Homo sapiens: one gene and its partners. The protein of the gene in region 7 purifies or fractionates together with the protein of the main gene of each other region. This does not show direct contact. Each region holds a gene or a part of one and is shown on either strand. Other genes may lie near its edges. The genes, in order: AHCY, PREP, FBXO33, TNPO1, SMS, MACIR and IPO5.

Region 1 (3,500 bases), on a different chromosome or scaffold from region 7:
TGGCTCTGCTTGGCCAGCGTCCTTTGCTCACAAGAGGCTCCTGGGAACCCCACACCTGTGCCCTAGTCATGCCACATGGGAGGAGTGTGGGCTGGTGGTCAGTAGCCCTCAGTTCTGGTGTCTATTCTGGAATTTCATTTAGAGTGGCCCAAGTGCGTCTTAGCTCCTCTCTGGGCATCTGTAAGTGATGATAATGGTCATGGCTGCCTCACAGGGTTTCTATGAGGAAGAATGAGATGGGGTATGGAGGATTTAGAGTCATGTCTGGCAGAAAGCAAGTACCCCACACATGGTAGCTGCTCGTAGTCATTTTTTGGCCAGACTTTGCCTGAGATTCCCCCACACAGAGGCTGCTAGTGCTCCAGTCCTTTCAGTGCAGAGCAAACCCTGGATCCTGCCGTGTGGATCCTGCTGAGGGGGAGGCGTTGTGGGGTATCAAGCCCTGGTCACTCAGGGTTGATGCCTCAGTCCTTGGCGCCCAGGCAGAAGGGGATGGGAAAGGAAAGAATGATTTCCTGATATCTATATCTGGGGCGGGGGGCTGTACATGGCTTCTGTCTCACTTAATCCATACTATTGTGAGCCCTATTTACAGAGGAGAAGACTGAGGCTCAGAGAGGTGAAGTGATTTGCCCAAGGTCACACAGCTGGCAAGTGGCAGAGCCAGGGTTTGAACTCAGATCTATCTGGCTCCAAGTTGTGTCCTGACCACTGCTGAGTTTTCAGAGGGGCCGGAGGTGGCTGGGGATGGGAGTTGGGAAGGAGGTAGTTTTGGCTCTGCCAGAGTTGTTCCCTGGAGCAGGTACCAGTTGGGAAGTCCAGGCCCTGATGTGCCACTCACCCTCCAGTGTATGCCTGGAAGGGCGAAACGGACGAGGAGTACCTGTGGTGCATTGAGCAGACCCTGTACTTCAAGGACGGGCCCCTCAACATGATTCTGGACGACGGGGGCGACCTCACCAACCTCATCCACACCAAGTACCCGCAGCTTCTGCCAGGTGAGCAGGGCGGGGCAGGTGGGCTGGGTGCTGGTGGCCTGGGTGGGGCCTGTTTGCCCACATGATGGCCGCAGGCCTGGCAGGACTCCCATCACCTCAAGCAGCAGGATCTGGAAGATGGGAGGATGGCAGGCTCTGGCATTCATGCTGGGGCCTCCTGACTTCTGAGGGTGCGAGGCTAGGGCAGCTGAGCTGATGGCCCAAGGGCAGGCACAGACAGGGCCATGGTTGGGAATAGCTGGGAGGGAGCCAGCTTTGTTCAAAGCAGGTACGCAGAGTGCAGAGGCCCTGAGGCAGGAATGGCTGGAGTGTTCAGGAAACAGAAAAGAGGCCCACAGGATAGCAGTGAGCAAAGGGAGCCTTCACTGCGGGTATGGTGTGAACTTCGTGAAGACCAGATGTGTCAGGGCCTAATAGGCCAATAGAAAAGTGTTTGACCTGATTTGCAGAGCAAGGGGAAATAACTGGAGGGCGTTGAGAAGATTTCTCTGAGAAGATACATGTTAGAAATGGCTGCTGCATGGAGGATGGGTTGTGGTAGGGAGACTGGGAAGAAGCGACAGGGTCACGGACTAGAGCAGCGGCAGTGAGAATAGAGAAGCTGGGAGTTGTTCGGAGGCAGAGTCACTAGGCCTGGTGGTGGCTTCCCTGTAGGAGGGCGTTGGGGACTCCTCCCTCACGCGGGTCTGGGTGATTGGGGGGCCTGTGGGATCAGTCACAGAGATGGGAACCCAGAAAGAGGAATGGCTTTAGGGGGTAAAGATGAGGAATTTGCATGAGCACAGGTGTGGCATCTCTGAGGCTTGTCCTGTCCCCTCTTGTTTAGGCATCCGAGGCATCTCTGAGGAGACCACGACTGGGGTCCACAACCTCTACAAGATGATGGCCAATGGGATCCTCAAGGTGCCTGCCATCAATGTCAATGACTCCGTCACCAAGGTGAGCCGAGGGGCAGTGACAGCTCCCGCTACAGTGGCTGCAGCTCAGGACGAGGCCTCTGAAGAAGAGTGCCCAGGAAGGCTGAGATTAGGGACATGAAGCCCTCATTTGAGGGGGCAAAAGCGGTTATAGACAGGCTAATGAGTGCGTTTAAAAGGGGTGTCAGAGCTGGGTGTTAGGAGCTTTATGGCTTTGGGAAGAAGAGCTTTCAAGTTAAGCAAGGTCTTTGACCGGGCAATCTCTCCTAGTAACTGATGCCTAGGAAGGCTCCACACTGGCAGAGAAAGATTAGAGAGAAGCTCTTTGAGCCGATCGGGGTGAAGGGCTTGTGGGGGCATTGGGTGCTGGAGGGGTTCAGCCCAGGCCGGGATGCTTGGTGGGCCCATGATGCCTGGGCTCTTCAGAATACTCTGAGGCCAAGTTGTCCTGGCCCCAGGGCCTTGCCTGCCCCTATTGTCTCCTTACCCCCTTTCCTTTCAGAGCAAGTTTGACAACCTCTATGGCTGCCGGGAGTCCCTCATAGATGGCATCAAGCGGGCCACAGATGTGATGATTGCCGGCAAGGTAGCGGTGGTAGCAGGCTATGGTGATGTGGGCAAGGGCTGTGCCCAGGCCCTGCGGGGTTTCGGAGCCCGCGTCATCATCACCGAGATTGACCCCATCAACGCACTGCAGGCTGCCATGGAGGGTAGGATAGGGCAAGGGTTGGTTGTCAGCCACTGGGGCCAGAGGGAGGGGCAAGGCCACCGTAGATGACCCACAGCCACTGTCTCTGCACAGGCTATGAGGTGACCACCATGGATGAGGCCTGTCAGGAGGGCAACATCTTTGTCACCACCACAGGCTGTATTGACATCATCCTTGGCCGGTAGGTGCCAGATGGGGGGTCCCGGGGAGTGAGGGAGGAGGGCAGAGTTGGGACAGCTTTCTGTCCCTGACAATCTCCCACGGTCTTGGGCTGCCTGACAGGCACTTTGAGCAGATGAAGGATGATGCCATTGTGTGTAACATTGGACACTTTGACGTGGAGATCGATGTCAAGTGGCTCAACGAGAACGCCGTGGAGAAGGTGAACATCAAGCCGCAGGTGAGAAGCTCCCGCCTTGCCAGTGGGCTGGGCAGATGGGAGTGCAGAGGAGTGCTGGCTGCCAGGGAGGAGAGCTGAGGAGATGGTGGCAACCTGTGCAGGGGGATGGGGAGAAGAGGGCCTAGCATCAGAGCCAGCCAGACGTGGCAACCTTATCCTGTGGGCAGCCGGCATCCCTGAAGGTATCAGGCAGGTGAGCTGTATGTGGTGAGGCTGTAGTTTTAGAAAGATCACTCTAGCTACTGTGTGCAGAATAAAAGCAACAATGGCGGGTGGTGGGGAGAGAGGCTTTTAGAGGAGGCTCGTAGAATCCCTGCAGGGGATGATGGCAGCCTCAGCTTAGGGAGTGCTGGGGTGGATGGACGGCATGTGGGGTCAGGATGGAGGCAGAGTAACAAAGGACACAGCTTTGGCCGGGCATGGTGGCTCACACCTGTAATCCCAGCACTTTGGAAGGCCGAGATGGGCGGATCACC
Region 2 (3,500 bases), on a different chromosome or scaffold from region 7:
AACATTTTCTATTCACATTATTAGCATATACACAAAGGTGTATTAGCCATACCTTGCTGTAAAGAGGAGAATCTTTACAGAGCTTCTAAAACAAAAAGCTGCTTATTACATTTCCAATAAAAACCATTCAAGAAGTGAGAAACATCTGTAGCTCTTTTATAAGATCTGAAATGCTACCAGTAGGTCTTGGATTTAATCTAGTATTTAATTTAGGTTGGCTAATTCTGACAGTGCCTGGCGTTTAAGGCTATATCCTTTATAAAACAAAACCAGAGCAGACTTGTAACAGAAAATTCTCAAAAACAGGGGCGGGGCAGGGGGTAGAGGGAGAGTTGAATCTGGATGAATCTTTTCTAGCTGTCAAGGCCCATATTGCTATTTTATAGCAAATGCTTCAGACTGTACAAGGCAACACACAATTCAGTTGATTCTCTGAAGCAAATCTAACGCTGATATGAAATATGTTAACAGAGATATTTTGTAAAGAAACAGAGGAGCAGCGCTGTCCAGTAGATACATTATGCAAGCTACATATACAATTTAAAAATTTCTAGTAGCCACATTAAGGAAAAAAAAATTAATTTCAATAATATATTTTATTTAATCCACTACACACAAATCATTTCAACTCTGTTTTTGAGAATTTTCCATTACAAGTCTTCTCTGATTTTGTTTTATAAAGGATATAGCCTTAAATGCTAGGCAGTGGCAGGATTGGCCAACCTGTATTAAATACTAGATTAAATCGAAACTCTATTTCAGATCTTATAAGAGAGCTACAGATGTTTCTAATGTCCTGACTGGTTTTATGTAATCCATATAAAATATTAAGGTATTTTACTTTTTTTTTTTTCAAACTAAGTGTTTGAAATCCAGCATGTATTTTATGCTTACAACATGTAATCAATTCAGACTAGCCACATTTCAGGTCCTCAGGAGCTACAAGTGGCTAGTGGTTATTATATTGGATAACAAGATATTGACCAACTTTTCTTGTAAATATAGTTGTAAGGAACATAAAAACAGATTAAAAATGGAATTTTATCACAGGAATTCAAGGACATTTTAATATTAATATATTAGTGAAGCTATATAATTACCCTGATTGGTATTAAAAAGAAATCAAAATCCAAAACTAAAAGTAGGAATAACAATGCTTAAACAAGATGACAAATATCATTCAAAATAACAATTTAAACACTAGGCTAGAAAGTTCTTTCTCACTACTATTCTTACATGTTTTGCAGAGCTTTGACCAATTCAATAAGACCTGAACCGAAATTTGGTAGAGGAGAAAATAATAATTGATTGTAGATGATATGATTATGTATCTAGAAAACCTAAGGGAAATAGCTGAAAACTTATTCAAATCTGTGAGTTCAAAAAAATTACTAGGTACAAAATATATAAAATAACCAAAGTTTGATAGAAGAGAAAATAGAATTATCACTAAATTTGATTATATGTTATATGATTATGTATCTAAAAATCTAAGGGAAATAACTGAAAATTTGGTGAGTTCAGTAAGGGAACTAGGTACAAAATAAATATAAAATCGGTAGCAGTAGCTAGTTTAGCCAGGCATGGTGGTGTGCGCCTGTAGTCCCAGCTACTTGGGAGGCTAAGGCAGGAAGATGGCTGGAGCCCAGAAGATGGCTGTACTCCAGCCTGGGCAACAGCAAGACCCTGTCTCTAACAAAAGAGTCAGTAACACTTGTATATGCCATCAATAATGAAAAAGGAACCCATTTGATAGCAACGACAAAAAGCAAATACCTGAGAATGGAGAAGAGATTTCAAGGCTACTGCAACAAGTAATCATGTCATTGTCAGAAATGTGGAGATCTAGAAAAGTGCTTGTTTGGGACATTTGGGACATTATTTGTAATAGTGAAAAGTTGAAAACAATCATTTCCAACAGAAGTCATTAGGCATAATATAGTGCATCTGCCTGATGAAATAGTATCACTATTAAAATTCTGGGCTGCAAAGATTGCTTTCTAACATGAAAAATTGCCATGGTAGAATATGAAGTCAGAGAAGGATGTAAGATCACAGTACTCTGAATTATTACAATTTAAAAAATATATATATTTTAAAAAAGAACAGGTCAGCATGGGAGTGGGGGCTGGCCCAGGGTTCACACCTGAGGGCCTACAAAGGCACATGGCAAGCACAGACATGAATACATTCCTTTAGCTCGCATCTGCAAAGTATTACACCCAGTCTTTTTACTTTTACTTATTTTTTAATGTGTAATTGATAACCACCTCGTCTACCTGGGTTACCCTTGACTACACACTTACTAGCTGAGTAGCCATGGACAACATATTTAATCACTCAGCACCTCAATTTCTTCATCTGTAAAATGGGGGAAATAAAAAGATATATTTCAGAATTTGAGAATTAAATGAAACAGGGAATGCAGAACTCCCGGTAAAGTGCCTGGCACATGGTAACCATCCAAGAAATGTATACCACAAAAATAGTGTATACTCCAATGTCTTAGTTTCTATCAAGTGCTGACTATAAGATCATTAATTAGCAGTTTCATCCACTAATTGGAAGCCTGATATCCACTAATAAGTGGCTTGTCATCCACGAACCTGTCATTATCAACTAAGGAACAGCAAAGTATACATTCACTAACAGATAAAACCTGGGTCATTTTGACAGTGCTAAATCACTCAATCACCATCAAAGGCTGTAGAAATCCAGGTTATAGCCGATACTTCAGGTGAAGAAATCATCAGGTCCTTAGAGACAGTTTTCCAAGAGATGCACAGGAACTTCATCCTTTCCCTGGTGCTTTCTAGCCAGTACAGGTTATGCAGGTGCATGTGACTCTCCACTCCCAGACCCAATCCCTCTGTCTCAGTCAGCCCAGTGTTGAACAATCAAGGTAATCTATGGCAGGGATGAAGTGGGGAGGTAACCCCACACCTGTTCTCTGTCCCCTCAGACTTACCTGCAGAGCTACAGCCTTCACCATTCCTAAAGATACTCAGGTGTTTCTCACTTTGGAATTTCTGCCCATCCACTACTATAACCCAGTGCTTCTGGAAAGAAAAATTAAACCCCAAATATCAACCATTCTCATCCATGAGATCTTTGTCTTTCTTGAAGGGAGTTAGAGAAAGAATGTAGGATTGCAGATAAAAGTAAAAACCATTAGGAAATCTCAAAATAGCAGTGTGCTTACTTTAGGGACAAAGGATAAAAAGAAGTTGTAAGAGCTTTGCAGTGGGCAAAGGAGAGACACTACTCACAAAGAACAGGTGAGGATAGCAGAAAGCAGGTGAGCCAGTGCTTGAGACTAAAGGAAGAAGAAAGAGATGATCATGTGGTTTACTCCCCTGCCTCTACTTTCTCTCTTTTCTCCATATACCATCATGCTCTGGCTAAGCTCTTCACTCCATCCCTTTCCTTGTCCCAGTGGGGAGATGGGCAATTCTACATCAGGAAGGGATGCTTTCCTGGCAAATCTGAATTCAGGTCTC
Region 3 (4,069 bases), on a different chromosome or scaffold from region 7:
TTACACTACATTTTGAGACAAACAGAATGAATATGCTACCAAAGCAGCATGACATACAACACCATGCTAATAGTAGATGACAAGCAAACCTTAAAATTAGGGATGACGGGTGTGATGTTTTTGCATAGAAGTGATAGCTGACCCAGAAGGGCAGGCATCGGTGGCCTTATAGAGAAGCAGATTGGGATGCTAATAAAAATTGTAGGGGTAAGGAAGAGAAGGACAGGAGAATTAAGCTACAAAGCAAAGATGTGAAATATCTCCATTTTGCCTGTATGTTATCCACCCATCCAACCAACCAGTTATTAAAATACTTAAAAGGAACTAGACACTTATCAAGTCTTGTTCTTACTTGGGTCAAAGGCACATACAGTGTTTGCATGGTTGCATAAAAGTGCAATTTGATCTCAGTACAGAAAAATCTAATTGGTACTCACTCATTGAATTCACCCTCAACCTTGGTCTCATTAGTAAGTGCTCACTGACTGAAACTTTGCAACTTTTGGGTCAGTTGGTCCTCTAGCCATACATTCAACTCTGAGAAAGTCTCTAACCTAATCTGTTTTTAGCTTCAATGGCCTCTCCTGCCAGATAAAACCAAAGTAAGGAAATAGAATGTCTTGCGAAAAGCTGTGGAAACGCACAGGCAACTGGAATAATGGAGCCATATCCCAGATACAACTTGGAGCTATAACTTATCTCTTGACTTCTAAATTAAGACACAGATTAATGGCGCATACATATATATATATAACCTTATATCTATATATATCTCCTAGCATTAAACCAGGGACTGCTCTCAACCTTGTTCAACATAATGTTCAGTATATTTACTGCAAAAGGACACGCTTTCGGAGAAAAACAATGCCGTACAGCAATGTGCAAATCACTTGATCCTATAAAGGGTCAGTTTCCTTTCTGTAAAACAGGGTTATTTATCATTACCCTGCCTCATAGTGCCACTGAGAGGCTCAAACAACACAGTGAATGTGAAACTGCTGAAGTATTTTTACTATGTAAGGTGCTCCTTTTGTGAACGTCTAAACTTTCTTCTAATAAGAGCTTTACTGTAAGGTTCTTTAGAATATCCATATAAAGAAGATCTAAATTAATAGGGTTTTGGAGGTGGCGATGGAGAAAAATGATGATTGGGAGGGATACTGGGTCAGAATATAAGGCGTTAGTTCTGGAATTACAGTGAAGTCCTGATGCAAAACCAGAACAGTTATGTGCTTACCCTCTGCAGACCCTGGCCAACTCCCTCGCTGCCCGCCCGCCTCCTCCGCCCGACTGTTACTTTTAGGTGAACTACTGGGGAGAAGTTGAGTGTGGTGGTGTATGGGGAGGGACTTTCAACCCTGAAGATCAACTTCTTCCCCAATCCCTTTAACAAACACTCCTCCTCCTCTTCGGGCCTTGTTCAGTTAGCCGAAACTATTTCTGGTAAGAAAATGGCTGTTACAAAATTTCTTTTAGGCAGCGTCCTATGAGTACCTACTCCTTCCCTCACCATGAACTATTTCTAACAGATTCAGAGTCAGAAAATCGTGTTATGTGTATGTTTTGTTTCTTCCAAGGCTCACCCACAGGCCTCACCCTCCCAGTCTTAACGCTCCCATATATAAAATGAAAAGTGACAGCGCCTGTCAGCTCCATCCCACGGCCACCAAGAGGATGAATGAGTGCCTGGAAGGCGCCAGAAGTGGTGTCTGTTAAACACCCCGTCCACCACTGTTTATAAAGTATCGTGATGAGTCCCGTTATGCCTTTCCGCTCAAGGAAACCGCCTAGTTAGAACCAACACTCTCCGTCACTGAGGAAGGCAACACTGAAGTTGGCCGGGCACGTATTATGCACAGAATCTGTGTCGGGGTGCGGGGACGGAGCGACCCCCCGTTACCGGGCGGGGCGGGGCTCAGGGCAAGCCTACCTGTTGTTCCGGATGCTGACCAGCACGCAAAGCACCAGCTCCAAGTAGGTGCGCAGCACTTCCAGCCAACGAGCTGAGAGCTGCAGGGCCTCGACTTCCTCCCCTCCAGTCCCGGTGTCCGCGCCACCTCCGTCCCCTGGGCCACCGCCGCTCAGATAGTTCTCGGCGGCGAATTCAACACGCAGCTCTCGCACGAACCAGCCGCACTTGCGCATGAGGAATTCCAGCCGAGGCTGCTCCGCGGGCGAGACGCGGAGGCAGATGCGGAGCTGGGGCCACAGGGCCGGATAGAAGAGGCACTCACGCCAGTGCGAGCAGGAGGCCGAGGCCCGCAGCCGGTCGGGCGCCGGCAGAAAAGAGAAGATGTGCACGATCAGCTCGCTGGGCAGCGACGCAGCGCCCGCCGCCTGCCCGCACAGAGCCATCCGGCCCCGCCGCCGGCTGCCGGCTCCCGGCCGCCCCCGCAGTACCCGGAGCAGCCCCCGCAGCCGTCGCAGCTGCTGCAGCCGCAGCCGCCGCCACCGCGCCACCCGGGCGGCCCCGGCTCGGGTTCGAGCTCCCGGCGGTCGGGGCTGCGGCACTGACAAGAACAACAACATCAATGACTAGGAAGAAGGGGGCGGAACCGTCGTGGGTCTCGGCGGAACCAAGTAGAACACAAGTTGTGGAGAGGGGGAAAGGCCTCTGCGGGCGTGGCCTGCCGGGAGCCAGCCTCTGTCTTCTCAAACTCTACTCACGTGCGTCCGAGGCCGGCACACTGAGTAACTGCACTGCCCTCGCTCGTAAACTTCAGCGGCCCGGAAGCCTCAAGGCGTACTGTAAGGAAAAGGCAGCCCTCCCTGCGCCGGTCGGCAGAGACAGAGAAGTGGTAGGAGCTGAGTTTGACGTCGCCGCTGGTGGGAGGAGTCCGGCGCGCACCGGCGCGACTTCCGGAAGAGGGGAGCGCCCGATTGCCTGTAGGGACGGGAGGCGCGGCACGTGATCTCTGACGCACGCAGGCCGCGGGGCGGGGCGGGGCTGGGCGGGGCGGGGCGGGGCGGGGCTGGGCGGGACTGGAACCGGCACTTGGCACCCCTTACGCCTTACGGTGGCCGCTGCGCCCAGTCACATCTGTAAGTCGGTTAATTTTGGCGCTCGGTCGATGGAGGTGGCGGTACTCTGGTTTAGTGCGAAAGGTCGTCACGCTTCTTTGTAAAACGTTTCTCAGTTTGGGCTGAGGACCCTGAGCCAAAGTGGCGGCATGCAGGGTCTTTCTCAGCCATCCCACCTGCCCAGAGTAGGGTTAAGAATTCCTGAGATTGCGCCGCTGAGAGGGAGCTGGCGGACGGGCGGGCTAACCCCGGCGGGCTGTGCCGGGAGGGGCGGTGTGGGGCGTGGCGGAGGCCGCGAATGGACCTGCCCCCTCGGTCCAACCACGCAGGTGGACTTCCGCGCACTCGCTGGTGTGTGGGGAAGCAGTGAGGACAGCGTCACCCTTTGGATTCAGAGGGAGAGAAAAAAATTGGCAAAGGGATCTGAGATCCGCAGGTTGTGACCAGCCTCTTCTCCAGGGCTTGAGGAAGGGTCTCTTTTCCCTGTGCTGAGATTTAAGGCTCTCGTTGAAAAGTTCACAGTAATGACAGAGCTTTGATTTTTTTTCTTTCTTCTTCTTCTTTTTTTGCCTGGTATCCCTAACTTAGATTTTCCAAACCATGTCCCTAACTTCACCACAGCCTACTGCAAAGTAAACTCTGGTTGCAAAGAGTGGTGAAGTCAGAAAAGATTAAGTGACTTTATGTAATAATCGAGGGTTGCTTTAGGGAGGCTGCCTCTTTATGTAATAATTGAGAGTTGCTTTAGGGAGGCTGTGATGTTGGAATAGCATCGTTCTTTTGTGGTAAACACCAAGACTTTTTGGACTTTTTTTTTTTTTTTTGGTTTTAAGGAGCGGAGAATTTAATAGGCAAGAAAGAAGGAAGAAGGCTGAAGGAAGAAGCTCCCCACTACAGAGACAGACGGAGGGGGCTCCCAAGACGAAAGAGGAGACCCCCATTCTAGATGTTCTTAACCCTTTGAGGGCAAAGCTCTCCGTTTAATGCCTTGCACATATCAGGTTGCCAACAACATGGTGTGGTTTATCAATTGTGATAGGTTACTTAT
Region 4 (3,500 bases), on a different chromosome or scaffold from region 7:
AATGAAAGCCCTGGTCATCAGCACTGTGAATTATTTACCGATTTCTTCCATAGCACTTGCCATAAATGATAATTATGTTGCTGCTTTGTATTTCCTACTAACCTGTAAGTCTCAAGATGGCAGGGACTTTATGTAAACTCAGCATTTAGTATATGCTTAACAATTAATAGCTAAAAAAAAAAACCGAGGTACTGAATGAATAAATTATAGGATCTCAAACATAATCTATATCCTCCCTCCCTTAATATCTTCCAGATATGACTGCTTCAGATGGATTAAGGTCAAACTCAAATTTACTATCCCTGCCAGGCGCGGTGGCTCACGCCTGCAATCCCAGCACTTTGGGAGGCCAAGATGGGTGGATCACTTGAGGTCAGGAGTTCAAGACCAGCCTGGCCAACATGACAAAACCCCATCTCTACTAAAAATACAAAAATTAGCTGGGCATGGTGTCGCACACCTGTAGTCCCAGCTACTCAGGAGGCAGAGGCAGGAGAATTGCTTGAACCCGAGAGGCGGAGGTTACAGTAAGCCAAGATCACACCACTGCACTCCAGCCTGGGCGACAGAGCAAGACTCCATCTAAAAAAAATAAAATAAAATTTTCCTTTTTTTTGTTCAACAGTTATTTTTTCCTACTATCAAGGTCAATGGTAAAAGCAAACCTACTCGAAAAATTAAGAACTATAAACATAAGCAGAAGGCCCTTTTAAAATATAAAGGTATATTGCAGGAAACTGGAATATTTGTAGTAATAAAAGCAACTGCTGGCTTGATATAAAGAGACAGCCACCAAACCAACCAATAGAATGGCTACTAGAGCAGAACTACTAAGCACTCAAAGACCTTTAACTGGTAAGTGACAGACCACAGGTCCCTGTGGGACTTTCTGAGTTATGGTGGTTGACCTGTAGTCTAAGGATGTCAATCTGCTCAAACGTTGTTATTCCTTCAAGAGTAGGAGTCCTGCCATCACTAGTTCAGATGTCTGAGGGAATTAGGGTGTAAGATAGTTCTGTTATAATAACCACTGAGTGGGAAAAATGAGCCAAAGAAGAAACAGCTAAGATCGATGTTGTCACATTTAGATCTACAAAATCATCAGGTAAAACCCACATGACAAAATTCTCCTGGCCAAACAAAATGTATAAAATACGCTAATATGCAAACCCAAAAGCTACAGATCCTGCAAAACACTTCACCAAGAAGAAAAAAGAAAACTAAGCTTTCTGATATAACTGGAAAATTTTCAATTACGAAACACTTCATTATAGGTTTAACACCAACACTCCATCAGAAGGTTGAAAATTAAGTTTTTCACTGCCACAAAGAACACTGTGTTATGAATCTGTCCCACCTGCAGGCAGCTTCTTGTACTCTCTTGTTGCTGTCCAGGATGCGCTTTAGCAATTCTGTCATTAATGGCTTCAGGTACGTGTCTGGCGGCTGGCTGACCACCCAGTGTGCATAGCGGCTAAGAGTCCAGCATGTTATGGAACGCACAAGAGCCTTTTTATCAGAGAGGCACTGAATAAGGTGAGGAATAAGCTCAGGCAAGTATGGAATCATGCCCTGCATGCAACCTAGAAAAAAAATAAATCTTTCAAAATGCTAAAATTTAGTTAACATTATTTTGGTTGATTATGAAAATAAAACACGTATCTATGAAAAAATTCAGAATATTTCTACTGCTATACACATACTACAATAACCTATACCAAAATTATTTTTAAAACCCTGAAGTTAGAGCTACCTGCTCCCAAGCATCTTACAGTGTTTCAATTTCTTCTAATAGATGTTTACTGCCAGGACAAAATCAATAATAACCCTTCATAGAGAATGAAGAGAGTCTTGCCTTATTGTGTTTCCTATACTTACCTAAAGAATCAAGGATTTTTTTTTAAAGCAATGGGGATGCTTCAGACATCAGAGCCTTTCATTCTGTTCCCTTAATTTTTTTGTTTTTATTTTTTATTGAGATGGAGTCTTGCTCTGTCACCCAGGCTGGAGTGCAATCGCACGAATTCAGCTCACTGCAACTACCACTTCCCAGGTCCAAGCAATTCTCCTGCCTCAGCCTTCCAAGTAGCTGGGACTACAGGCACATGCCACCACGCCCAGCTAATTTTTGTATTTTTAGCAGACGTGGTTTCGCCATGTTAACCAGGCTGGTCTTGAAACCATCTCAGGTAATCCACCCGCCTAAGCCTCCCAAAGTGCTGAGATTATAGGCGTGAGCCACCATGCCTGGCCTCTGTTACCTTTATTATAACAAAAACATTTTGCAAAATATCTAGCTGGGGTTAGAAGACGGCCTATGGCTGTTTAATACTAGTTATCTGGTTCAAAATAGAAATTCCTTAAAGTAGCCTAGCCTTATTAGTACCTAATAGTAGTAAGAAGCCAACTTACATAATTCAAACTGGACTTAGGCTTACCTTCAGCAATTGCTCCTAAAACCAAAATGCCTGATTCTTTAACAACCCATTCATGATGAAAAAGTAATTCTTTCAAAAGGGGCAAAATATGTGGCAGCAGTTCATCACGATACACATTTGCAAGAACATCCAGGGCAGCAGCAGAACATTTTCCTAAGGAAATATTTAATTCAAAAATATTACATTAACCTCTTATTACTTATATATTATTTATTGTATATGTAACATTTTATTCGTATCTCTAATACGGAGTTTTAAAATAAGAATTCAATTGAATAGGAGGTAGTTTGTCACGTGAAAACATTTTGTGGTTTTTTTTTTTTTTTTTTTTTTTGAGATGGAGTCTTGTTCTGTCGCTCAGGCTGGAGTGCAGTGGTGCGATCTTGGCTCACTGCAACCTCTGCCTCCCAGGTTCAAGTGATTCTCCCGCTTTAGCCCCCTGAGTAGCTGGGATTACAGGTGTGTGCCAGTACGCACAGCTGATTTTTAGGAGAGACGGGGTTTCACCATGTTGGCCAGGATGGTCTCAAACTCCTGACCTCGTGATCCACCCTCCTCAGCCTCCCAAAGTGCTGGGATTACAGGTGTGAGCCACCATGCCCAGCCAAAAACATTTTCTATTAAGATGAATATTTTTTATGACAAGAACTTACTTGGCAAATTAATTGTGAACACATTGTATTCTGTACATAACTGTCATACTAGAATTCTGTCTATACAGTAAAACAAATACTGTGCCACTCAATTCAGTGCTTCTAACATAACCATTCAATATGATACACTCATATTACAATCATGATTACAATCACTGTTACAATCACGCAAAAAACATACATTATTAACTCTACTTAACATTTCCAGCAGTATATCATCTAGAATTAAACAGACAATTACTTAGCTGGACTTTAGACACAAAAACTGGAAGAAAAGTCACTGGCACATGAAACATAACGCATGCTAGAAAATACTCTTTACAAAGAATTAACTATGGGACTATAAATCAACCCAGATTTTATTATAATAATAATTTAGACAAGAGCAACAAAATCAAAAAGAACAACA
Region 5 (3,500 bases), on a different chromosome or scaffold from region 7:
AAAAGGAACTTAATCTTCTTTTCTCCTCATGAGATGGCTTTAGAGAAGCCATTTTGGAAACTGCTAGGCAGCAGACACAGTATCAAAGTCCTTTGCTCTTTAATCCTCAACTAGGTAGATTATTTGTTTGTTTTTGAGACAGAGTCTTACTGTCACCCAGGCTGGAGTGAAGTTGCGCAATCTTGGCTTACTGCAACCTCTGCCACCTAGGGTTCAAGCAATTCTCCTGTCTCAGCCTCCCGAGTAGCTGGGATTACAGGTGCCCGCCACCATGCCTGGCTAATTTTTGTAATTTTAGTAGAGGTAGGGTTTCGCCATGTCGATCAGGCTGGTCTTGAACTCCTGACCTCAGGTGATCCACCCGCCTCGGCCTCCCAAAGTGCTAGGATTACAGGCATGAGCCACTGTGCCCAGCTGATTATTTCTTTGTTGATGGCCACATAAAAGGGTACTGTTACTAAATTGTCTGTTCAAGGCAGTCTAGGTAACACATTTGCCTCTAGTCTGTGGTAACATTAATTTGAGTTGTGAGACACTGAAGGAAGGAAACAAAAGAAGCCCACTGAACTTGTTCTCTTATACAACAAAGGATATCTCTACCATAGTGACCATCTTTGGTTTTAGTTTGACTATTTCACACAATATGCCTCCGTCTCCACCTCCCAGAATGAGTACATCTTTGCCAGTGTAATCTTCTTTGCCACTGCCCATGATGGCCCGGGTATATGCCAAATCACTCTCTGCCAAATCTAGGGAGGAGAAACAGATCCAAATGGTGAGTCTACCTTAACACACAAACCACCTGGCCCCACCACACTGAAGAGCTGGGATCTAGACCAAAATGTAAATTTTTCATTTTCAATTTTTTAAAACTGTGAACAATTTGCAAGCTTTTTTTCCATTGAGGACTTTTTCATCAACCCTGATCATCTGACACCTAATACAAATGGACATTAGTCAGTGGGAAGAAAATCCAGCCTTAAAAATGTGTCAATATACCGAATAACTAAAAGCAATTACATCTTTACAAATGAAATAATATGATGTCTGTGAGCTGCTTCAAAATAATATGAGAGGGACAAAGTGGACTGGGGTTTAGGTAAAATAAGACTGGCTAGGAGGTGGTAATTGTTCACACTCGATGGTAAGTACATGTGGGTTCATCACACTAGTTTGTCTACTTAGGTTTGAATTGTTCTGTAACAAAAAGGTTTTTTTTTTTAAATATGCAAATGCATTTTCTTTTGAAATACAATCCAAATACTCATCACTAAGGAAGCAATGTCAAGACAAAGTTTATGTGAAAGCCCAGACAATCCACAGGTTAATATGACATAAATGTGCATCTCAAAAACCAGCAGTGTCAAAAACAAACTCAAACAAATCCACGACAGTAGTAATTGTCAGGAAAACACCATCATTCAACACATCACCACTTTGTTACGTGATCGGGGCAGGGATGGAATACTTACTAACATCCCCACTAAGGATGAGAATATTTCCAAACTGCTTCGAGTGTAGAATTTTTATATTTTGATAAGGTGAATCTTCGTCATATACCACTTCATCTATGTCATATTCAACCAGGCGCCCGTCGGCGGTGGGCCAGTATCTGTCGATGGCTCCTCCTCGCACTATGGGTGGTAATCTGGAAAAAGAGAAAAACAGAAATGTACCTTACTAGAACACTGCCTTACAAGTGGAGCTAGGATGAAGAGTGTGCAAAAGAAAGCCACATGACTGCCGACTTTTGACAAGCACAAAACGAATCCAAAGCTTGGGCTTTTAGTTTTATATAATCACGGCCACCACCAAATGTTGACAACTATTGTACACAGTTCACTTTTTAAAAAATCCTGTCATGCTTTAGATTTTCTCTAACAAAAAGCTGAAGGAGAAGATGGCCACTGCACACTTCATATTTCAAATGCTCCAGCAGCATCTGTCTCTTAAGACTATCTACATAACTACATGGACATTACCACATTTACACCAGTTCACATGGGTATGATATGGTTATCTAGTACAGAGTCCATCTTCAAGTGTCCCCAGTTATATCCTTTATAGATGTTCTGCTCTTGAATAAAGGCTCATACACTGCATTTCCCTGTTTTTTTTTTCTTTTTTATCCTCATGTAACGTATAATTTTTTTTTTACTGGTATGTTTCATGACACTGATATCTCCAAGTACAGACCAGCTATTCTGCTGAAAAATGACTCGTGGGTTTACCTGATAATCTCTCACTCTTCATGGTTAGAATCAGGTTGACATATATTACACAGGCATCACATCGGGAACACAAGATGTGTATCTGTCCTATTATTGGTGATGCTAAGTCTGTGATCACTTGGTTAAAGTGGTATTCATGGGCTCTCTCCATTTGCAAAGGTACCTTTTTCACCCTCTGAAATTACTAAGCAGGCTGTGGGGTGGTGCTCTGAAACTAGGTAGAAGTCCTCACCCCCCAACAAACCTTTACCAGTGGTTTTAGCATGCAGAAGATTCTGGCCTGAACCAGTTACTACTACAGAGGCTGCAAAATGATGATTTTTTCATTCATTCTTTTGTAAATACCCGGTATTTTTCACAGGATGAATGTACTAGAAGGTACCAGCAGAGGACACTAAATGACAGGAAAAAAAAGACCTGGAAAAGGGGCTTGGCAAGTCTAACCCAAACACAAAGAAAACGAGAGCTCACTGCATACATAACACAACTGCGTGAGTCATGTGTTCTCAAACACAGTAGTGTTCAACATTAAAACGCCATGATGTACAGCTGTAGACATGTAAAATGCTGGGATATGCGGCCTGACGTACTCTTATGAGTCTCTTTCCCTTCCCTGCTCACCAGCTTCCAAGAGTACAGTCTAAACCTGTTACAAGTTAACAAGGCTTTCTATGAGGGAATACTAACATCTATAAAGAACACCGAGATTGAAAAGGCAAACTCCCATAAATTCATGTCATCCTGACAACTCTTCATTTAACCACTTCTTCACCTTCCATGTGAACAAATTCAGCTTTCAGAATGTGAGGCATTCTAGAGGGTTTTTCTTGTAAATTGTAAAATGTGAAGCACCAATCAGGACAACTGCTAGAGAGCAGGCGAACAGGACTTGGAGGAAGCCTCTTCCACCCCTGGCTGATGGTGGGGAGTGAGGTGAGAGTGAGCCACCCATGGCATTGGATGAACGACAAAGTCACTCACTTCCAGGGGAGGAAGACTACCCTCTCCTTGACAGCCAGCCACCTATCGGCAATTACTGCACTACAGGCAAACCCACTGAAACTAAACAGTGCCTGTTCTCAATTGTGTCAATAGTGCCTTGGCTAAGGTGAAGAGCTCTTTCCTACATTGTAACTCTATGGTTTTTTTAAAGACTAGCAAAGAAAGAAGGATCTTAACAGGATGTAAATGCCATTACCCTGATGAAGTGCTCAACCTAGCATTAAAGGGCATCTCGCTGGTAGCCCTATAACGGGCTACCAGGAGGTA
Region 6 (3,500 bases), on a different chromosome or scaffold from region 7:
AGACTGATGCGAGGCAAATGATTAGAAGTCTCTTGGATAACACAACAAAAAAAGAGAGTGACTGAAAAAGCACTTTTTTATAGTTACCACCTTACTTAAGGTTTCTAGCATCTCCTCTGTGCCTTCCCTCTCTTACCTGGGAAGTTAATGTGTAAGAGAATCTATCTTTATCTCCTACCTCCCTAGTTAATAGGGTTAATTTGCTGAGACGAGGAAAACCCTCCAAAGTCCTTTTCCACCTGTAAAAGTTTCTTTGGTTGTTGGTTTTCTGTTGGGTTAAACAACAGAAGCAGTTGGAGGGGTGTCAAATGAAGCGAGTAGATTCATTTTATCTATGTAGGTGCACAGAGCCCAAGAAGTGTCAACAGTACAATACCTTATCAAACAAAAGACAAACTGCAAGAAAAAAGGCAAGGAGTTTGTAACTTTATTACTTTCCCTACCAGTACAGGAGAGTTTTATCCAAAGGAAATAGATAATTACTGAGTTTAATATGTGCTTCTTTAGCTTGAGAAACTGGAAGGAGCCAATGCACCAAGAACTGTCACTCCAAGAAACTAGCATGTTTATCAGCCTTTGCAACTTCTTCAGATGTAGATAACAGAAACACTCCCTTTCATGTATTTTGCCACCAACTATTCTCAAATTGGGGAACCAAAAAATCTTGAAAAGTAAGCCTTGATTCTACCCCACCAATGAAGCCTCTGGTTTTAACACACAGTAAATTGTAACAAAAATTGTTACCTACAGACAAAATGTTTATTTAATATAATTATCCCAAAGAATTTCCCCAATACTAATAACATTCATCTGCATTTCTTATTTAATGGATTTTTAATGGGAAAGAGGAGTTCTAAAAACGAACATTTCTTTAGCATCTTCCTTATGTCAAAAGTGATATACAATTTATATCATTTAATCTTAACTACTCCATGAAGAAAATATTATTATCCCATTTTTAAAGTACTCTTTAGTAGTAGCCCTATTTTAAAGTACTCTTTTAAGTGATACTACATGAGAGTCACAGCAGGAATTGGAACCCCAATTGGTCTGACTCCAAAGATCATTTACTTTACACTCTGGCCTCTGTTCAATGATAAGACAACATGTATAGCCTTTTACACAATAATCATGATCCCGCAAAATGTATATCAAGTAATTTCTATAAGTGAAAATCTATTTTAAGTGTATGGGTAGGCACTTTATCTAAAAGCTTTATTGCCTCATTTGTGAAATGGTTGGGGGAACTACTTAGCTGCATGGTTATTTCCAACTTGAAAAATATTAAGATTTGGTGGCACATCGTGGAAAGTCTTATACAAAATCCTTCTGAATCATGGACTCTTTCTCCTATGAGCTTCTATTTTCTAAAATCATAAATTATGCGACAGAAAAAAAGGTATCAACCAATACCGTCTGGTTATATGGTTGGATATCAAATACAGTTATATATTTCCGCTTTATTTCTCAAGACTACATCTATCACAAAGTGGGATAGATTTCATTTATACTTTTATAAATGTCAATTTAAAACAAGCAGGAGGAACATTAGAAATATCTGAATGTCTTAATCCTAAAGAATAGTTTTGACAGTCTTAAATCTCATTCAAACTTTCATATAATTTGCCTCATGTATTTGGTGACATATTCTTCTTTTTAAGCTTTTAAATGCATTAGAAAAATATTTACACTTTCAAAGAGTTTCTTTTTCAACATCAAAAGAAAGAAATCAACTAAAACTTTAGTCTGGATTTGAAAGCAGAGGAGCCTTGAAGACATTACCCAACTCTTGCACTGGAGCTGATGTGTAAATCTAGGAAATGATCGGTAATTTCATAGTAAACAAAGAGTAGTAACTGATTATTCCTATTATGCCAGTGCCAAGCCAAAAATAGAATATAAACACAATGTCCAAGGGAGCAACACAAGAAAACCAAGGTGCAGAAGCTCCATTACATTCTCACTTTTTCTAATTTTGACTCTGCTTCCTGCTTTGTGGGAGGAGGAGGAAGAGCAGGAGGAGGAGGAGGAAGAGCAGGAGGAGGAGGAGGAGGAGGAGGAGGTATATGGTGAAAAAGAGGGAAAAATAAATAAAAAGAACAAGACCAGAAACTAACTAGTATAAGATTATACGTTTTCTTTAAGACATAACCCATAAAGAAATCTACTACAAAATTACAGTAAGGGTTCTACCCCCATCTCCCACTTATAACAATTAAAAGATTGTAATATAAAAATTCCCAAAACATGTACCTTTCAAATAACACACATTTTTAGAATACTTTAAAAATCTATAATTCTCTAACGCTTGCAACTGATTTTGGCCAATGTTCTAAACACTGAAGGCTTGGAAAGATATCAACAGATTTCCTCTCCAAAACAGTCAGCAAGAGGAAAAGGAATCCATGTGAAATTCTTAGAAGATAGACTAAATGCTGCATAAAAACAAAGACTGAAGTAAATAGAGCAAAGGCTACAAGATATAATAAATGCTTCCAGTTATAAGAAGCTGAAACAGAATGCAGTGGGACATTATCCCATAAGCAATAAAAATAGGAAAAAACCAAGCAGTGGCCAAGAGCTGCCCACAGACTTCTGGATAAGAAAGTCATGGGTGACTAAGCAAAAGACACCCAACATTTCACTGCAAGTGGAGCTTCTACAAATAGAAAAGTTTGCAAACATTAACTACCAAATGTATCGAATTTCTCAGGTGATAGTTATTATCACAGGTAAATAAGAATGCCTTTCAAAAGAAGAGTGACTATATATCTCAATTCATAGTCAATACCCTGGCATAATTATTGAAAGCAACCCCCTTTAACTCTCAAAAGTGTCTCAGTTTGGCTGTTTCATTTGTTATCCTACTCAAAAGCAACATGGAAAGGCAATGACTTTTTTAAAAAGGGAAACACCCTTCTGCTTGAACGGTGAATTCCCATACAGGTCTGAGTTCTTTCTTCGGGTGTACCCACTTAGATATTCACTTATTCAGTCATTCAACAATGTTTCTTAAGTCTTATTATATATCCCCACACTATGCAGGCACTGGTGCACATATAAAGAGATGGCCTGAGACTGGGTCAGAGGGGAGGGCAGACATGGAAATAAATCCTTCTAATAACAGTAAACCTGAATGGCACTAGGAACCCAAAAAAGGGAGTGCCTTTCCCAAAAATATACAAAGCTCCATTTGGAAATGTTTATGTCCATACAAAATTCGTAAACACACAAAAAAGTCGTGAATCTCAAGCTTCAGCACAGATCACTAACAAAACAGCAGTAAGAAAAAATTTAACAACATTGATCACAAATCATAAGACTATAAATATGAGGACCAGCACATAGCCCTTTCAAATATTGGTAAATAAAAATCACATTCATCATTAAAGTTTATATTATGAAAGGACAAATTTTAGGCAGAGAAATTGGTACAGTAGAAGCTGTGAGTTCTAATTCTAGCTATCAAAACATTTATTTTCATTTTTTTCATGGCCCTA
Region 7 (3,500 bases):
TGCGATCTTCTGGGGAGAGGGGGTTAGAAGATAAAGGAAGGGGCCAAAGAGGGAATTTTCTTTATGACGTAGTAAGACAGCACAAAATATAATCATAAGTAGAGGAAATCAGTGAAGAAAAAAATGAGGATGAAGTGTAGGCATTAAAGTTGATGAACACAAAAATTTTGATTCCGTATCTGTACTCAAGAATTAGCTGTGCTTTGAGATGAGACTAACATGAGTTAGAGGTGTTGTGTTAATAGAAGAGAGAAAAAAAAAATCTCACATAAATAGTTCAACATAGATTCTTTTTATAGAAATTTCCTCCAAAACCTACAGTCTCTGCTTCTGGAGAGGTGGTCTCATTCTGCTGTTTCAGAAAAGCATTCAAGAACTTGAAGGGAGTAGTAATTGTAAATTTAAATACTTCTTCCAGTTTTCCTTTGAGGTAATAATTTGTGTCTTCCTTCTAGCTGATTCAGAAAGGCACCAAGTTAGTTTTGGAACAAGTTGTGACATCCATTGCATCAGTTGCCGATACTGCAGAAGAAAAATTTGTCCCCTACTATGATTTATTTATGCCATCACTGAAGCACATCGTTGAGAATGCGGTTCAAAAAGAACTGAGACTTCTGAGAGGAAAAACTATTGAATGCATTAGCCTCATTGGTCTGGCTGTTGGGAAGGAAAAAGTAAGTAATTTTTTTTTTTTTTTTTTTTTTTTTTTTTTTTTTTTGAGACAGAGTCTCGCTCTGTCACCCAGGCTGGAGTGCAGTGGCACGATCTCGGCTCACTGCAAACTCTGCCTCCCAGGTTCATGCCATTCTCCTGCCTCAGCCTCCCGAGTAGCTGGGACTACAGACGCCCGCCACCACGCCCGGCTAATTTTTTGTATTTTTAGTAGAGACAAGGTTTCACTGTGTTAGCCAGGATGGTCTCAATCTCCTGACCTCGTGATCCGCCCGCCTCGGCCTCCCAGAGTGCTGGGATTACAGGCGTGAGCCACTGTGCCCGGCCTGTAATTTCTATTATGTTAAATTTACTGTACCTAACTTGGCTGTGGAGGCATTGAGAGTACTAGAGGGATTTTTTCCTTCTGAAAAATGGTTTTCTGGATGCTTGTTTTTTTCCTTACTCCTTTCACATTGCTCCTGTTTTATATACAAATTCTTGCCTTCATCTTTTCATTGTTTGTTTGTTTGGTTTGGTGTTTTTTTTTTTTTTTTTGAGACCAAGTCTCACTCTATCACCCAGGCTGGAGTGCAGTGGCATGATCCTGGCTCACTGCAACCTCTGCCTCCTGGGTTCAAGCGATTCTCCTGCGTCAGCCTCCCAGGTAGCTGAGATTACAGGCACCTGCCACCACTCCCAGCTGATTTTTGTATTTTTTTTTTTTAGTAGAGATGGGGTTTCACTGTGTTGGCCAGGCTAGCCCTGATCTCCTGACCTCAAGCAGTCTGCTCACAGGTGTGAGCCACCGCGCCCAGCCCGTCTTTTCATTGTTAATATTAAGGTTTCTTTTTAGCTCAGCTGTGCTCCTGATGCCTCCTCCTTTCCCCACCACACACAGTGCATCTCGTGGGAGGTGTGTGGAAGTCAGTATCCATGTTCGTTCCCTTTAAATATGTGCTTGGAAACATGTCACTTGCTTTCCTATTAATCTAAAATGCATCAAGTGTTCTAAGAGAGAAATCTATGCATATAGATCTTCAGAAAATAATTACCAAGGACCATTGGCCAGTGTGTTTCTCAGCCAACATCTCAGAATTGTTCAAGCTAATGCAAAAGAAGTTTCTCTGTCATTGAATCCTCATGTTCTGACCCTGAGAATTATCAACAGAGAAGCTCTGTCTTGCCTTCTTCAAAACCAGCATCAGTATTAATTTATATTTGGAACTGGTTTCTGTGAGACGCTGACCACTAAAACATTGGTATGTTTTTTACCAATAAAATATTTGTATGTCCCATACTCTATATATCTGGCTTTCAATGTCTCTTTAAAACGCTGCCTGTTTATACAATGGAGATTACCAGAACTGCAAAGAGTTAAGTGAAAATCATAGACAAAATTTTATGCAGTGAATTCTATAAACAATCTAAAATTTTCTTTCTGAATTTGAATTCAGTTTTACTGCTTGAAATGCGTAAGCCATAGACTAACACCTGATGCCATTAGAAGTACCTTTATACTGTAGTTCCCTGCCCTTCAGTGGAAAATATATTTTTCTAGAAAGTGAACTAAATCTGTCACAATATAGATGAGAATTTTTCAATATGATAGTTTATCTATGAAAGTTATGACCTATGTGGGCAATGTAGTCGATTTTTTGGCAAAGCTTTGCTAATTACACAAGAAACAAAATTCGGTATCAACAAGTGTGTCTCTACATATTTTCCTCTAGTTCATGCAGGATGCATCAGATGTGATGCAGCTTTTGTTAAAGACCCAGACAGACTTCAATGATATGGAAGATGATGATCCTCAGGTAAGTGGTCTTAATGCATTTGCTTTGATCCGCTAATGAGTTGTGGACAGCACATGGTTCAATATATTTAAAACAAAAGGAGTGATAGGTTTCTTGACATACTATCAACCCCTGCTAGCAGAGACATTCTTCACTGATTTTCCTTCTGTTTCTCAAGCTACTTTTTCTCAGTCTGTTGTAGGTTGCTCTTGCTTTCTGTGACTCTCACTCAAGTTTTGGTGTTTGTGGGTTCTATCCAAGGCTCTCTTCTCACTCCTGTGGAGCAGTGTCACTCACAGACATGGCTTCCGGTTTCCTCTGTGTGCTTGCAACTTTCAGATCTTCAGAATTGAAGATTCATTTATCCAACATGTAATAGACATCTCCATTTGGGTGTCTCCTAGCCCTTTGAAGGCTGCATGATCTCCCTCCCCTGGCAGAAAATACAGAACCCAAGAATCTCAGGACACACTGCTTGCCTCTCCGCCAACGAACAGACAAAGGCATTTCATTAGGAGGAACCCCTGCCTCTCGACACACACGCACATACACACATAGGTATACATACCCAGCTAACGCTTGCTCACAGTTCTCATCCTTTACAAGATTTTCCTGATCTGCTCAGTCTCAATGGTGGGCAGTTCCAACACTGTTATAGTAACATCATAAATGTTTGTCATATCTTGATGGTATTCCCAATGCCTAACATATAACAAGGCACTCAATAAATAATTGTTGAATTAAATTTTGACTTTACATTGCCACACTGTAATAGTTTAAATAGGAAAACATACCATTTTGCAAAGAAAGCATGTTTTGTTGTTGTTTGCTTTCTTTGCAAAATGATATGCAAATATACATGTATGTTTTGTATGTACAGAGATAACAGGCAGGAGGGATACTTAGCAGACTGCTGACAGTAGGGAGACTGAGGGGACTGTAAGCTGTAGGGAGGGGTGGTAAGGACGAGGCGTGTTGCTCACCTTTGTATCAGCCAGCATATAGTTTAATGCCTGGCATGTGAGAAACACCCAGTACCTATCTGAAGAGCGG

What was found.
Region 1: the proteins of IPO5 (region 7) and AHCY fractionate together in Homo sapiens (co-fractionation; one large-scale study listed by BioGRID). This does not show direct contact.
Region 2: the proteins of IPO5 (region 7) and PREP fractionate together in Homo sapiens (co-fractionation; one large-scale study listed by BioGRID). This does not show direct contact.
Region 3: the proteins of IPO5 (region 7) and FBXO33 purify together in Homo sapiens (co-immunoprecipitation; one study listed by IntAct). This does not show direct contact.
Region 4: the proteins of IPO5 (region 7) and TNPO1 fractionate together in Homo sapiens (co-fractionation; 2 studies listed by BioGRID). This does not show direct contact.
Region 5: the proteins of IPO5 (region 7) and SMS fractionate together in Homo sapiens (co-fractionation; one large-scale study listed by BioGRID). This does not show direct contact.
Region 6: the proteins of IPO5 (region 7) and MACIR purify together in Homo sapiens (affinity purification with mass spectrometry; 2 studies listed by BioGRID and IntAct, with this or other methods). This does not show direct contact.

The regions. Positions count from the first base shown.
Region 1 is NC_000020.11:34,289,856-34,293,355, reverse strand, and holds part of AHCY (adenosylhomocysteinase), read left to right. Parts: intron 1-848; coding exon 849-998; intron 999-1,824; coding exon 1,825-1,937; intron 1,938-2,417; coding exon 2,418-2,625; intron 2,626-2,717; coding exon 2,718-2,805; intron 2,806-2,906; coding exon 2,907-3,024; intron 3,025-3,500. UniProt on the Homo sapiens protein: Catalyzes the hydrolysis of S-adenosyl-L-homocysteine to form adenosine and homocysteine. Binds copper ions.
Region 2 is NC_000006.12:105,393,083-105,396,582, forward strand, and holds part of PREP (prolyl endopeptidase), read right to left. Parts: intron 1-3,500. UniProt on the Homo sapiens protein: Cleaves peptide bonds on the C-terminal side of prolyl residues within peptides that are up to approximately 30 amino acids long.
Region 3 is NC_000014.9:39,429,634-39,433,702, forward strand, and holds the start of FBXO33 (F-box only protein 33), read right to left. Parts: upstream 2,801-4,069; 5' UTR 2,530-2,800; coding exon 1,931-2,529; intron 1-1,930. UniProt on the Homo sapiens protein: Substrate recognition component of a SCF (SKP1-CUL1-F-box protein) E3 ubiquitin-protein ligase complex which mediates the ubiquitination and subsequent proteasomal degradation of target proteins. Probably recognizes and binds to phosphorylated target proteins.
Region 4 is NC_000005.10:72,886,161-72,889,660, reverse strand, and holds part of TNPO1 (transportin-1), read right to left. Parts: intron 2,592-3,500; coding exon 2,439-2,591; intron 1,584-2,438; coding exon 1,358-1,583; intron 1-1,357. UniProt on the Homo sapiens protein: Functions in nuclear protein import as nuclear transport receptor. Serves as receptor for nuclear localization signals (NLS) in cargo substrates.
Region 5 is NC_000023.11:21,975,209-21,978,708, reverse strand, and holds part of SMS (spermine synthase), read right to left. Parts: intron 1,649-3,500; coding exon 1,473-1,648; intron 750-1,472; coding exon 595-749; intron 1-594. UniProt on the Homo sapiens protein: Catalyzes the production of spermine from spermidine and decarboxylated S-adenosylmethionine (dcSAM).
Region 6 is NC_000005.10:103,261,763-103,265,262, reverse strand, and holds part of MACIR (macrophage immunometabolism regulator), read right to left. Parts: intron 1,370-3,500; exon of another isoform or gene 1,257-1,369; intron 1-1,256. UniProt on the Homo sapiens protein: Regulates the macrophage function, by enhancing the resolution of inflammation and wound repair functions mediated by M2 macrophages. The regulation of macrophage function is, due at least in part, to its ability to inhibit glycolysis.
Region 7 is NC_000013.11:98,005,675-98,009,174, forward strand, and holds part of IPO5 (importin-5), read left to right. Parts: intron 1-455; coding exon 456-674; intron 675-2,384; coding exon 2,385-2,468; intron 2,469-3,500. UniProt on the Homo sapiens protein: Functions in nuclear protein import as nuclear transport receptor. Serves as receptor for nuclear localization signals (NLS) in cargo substrates.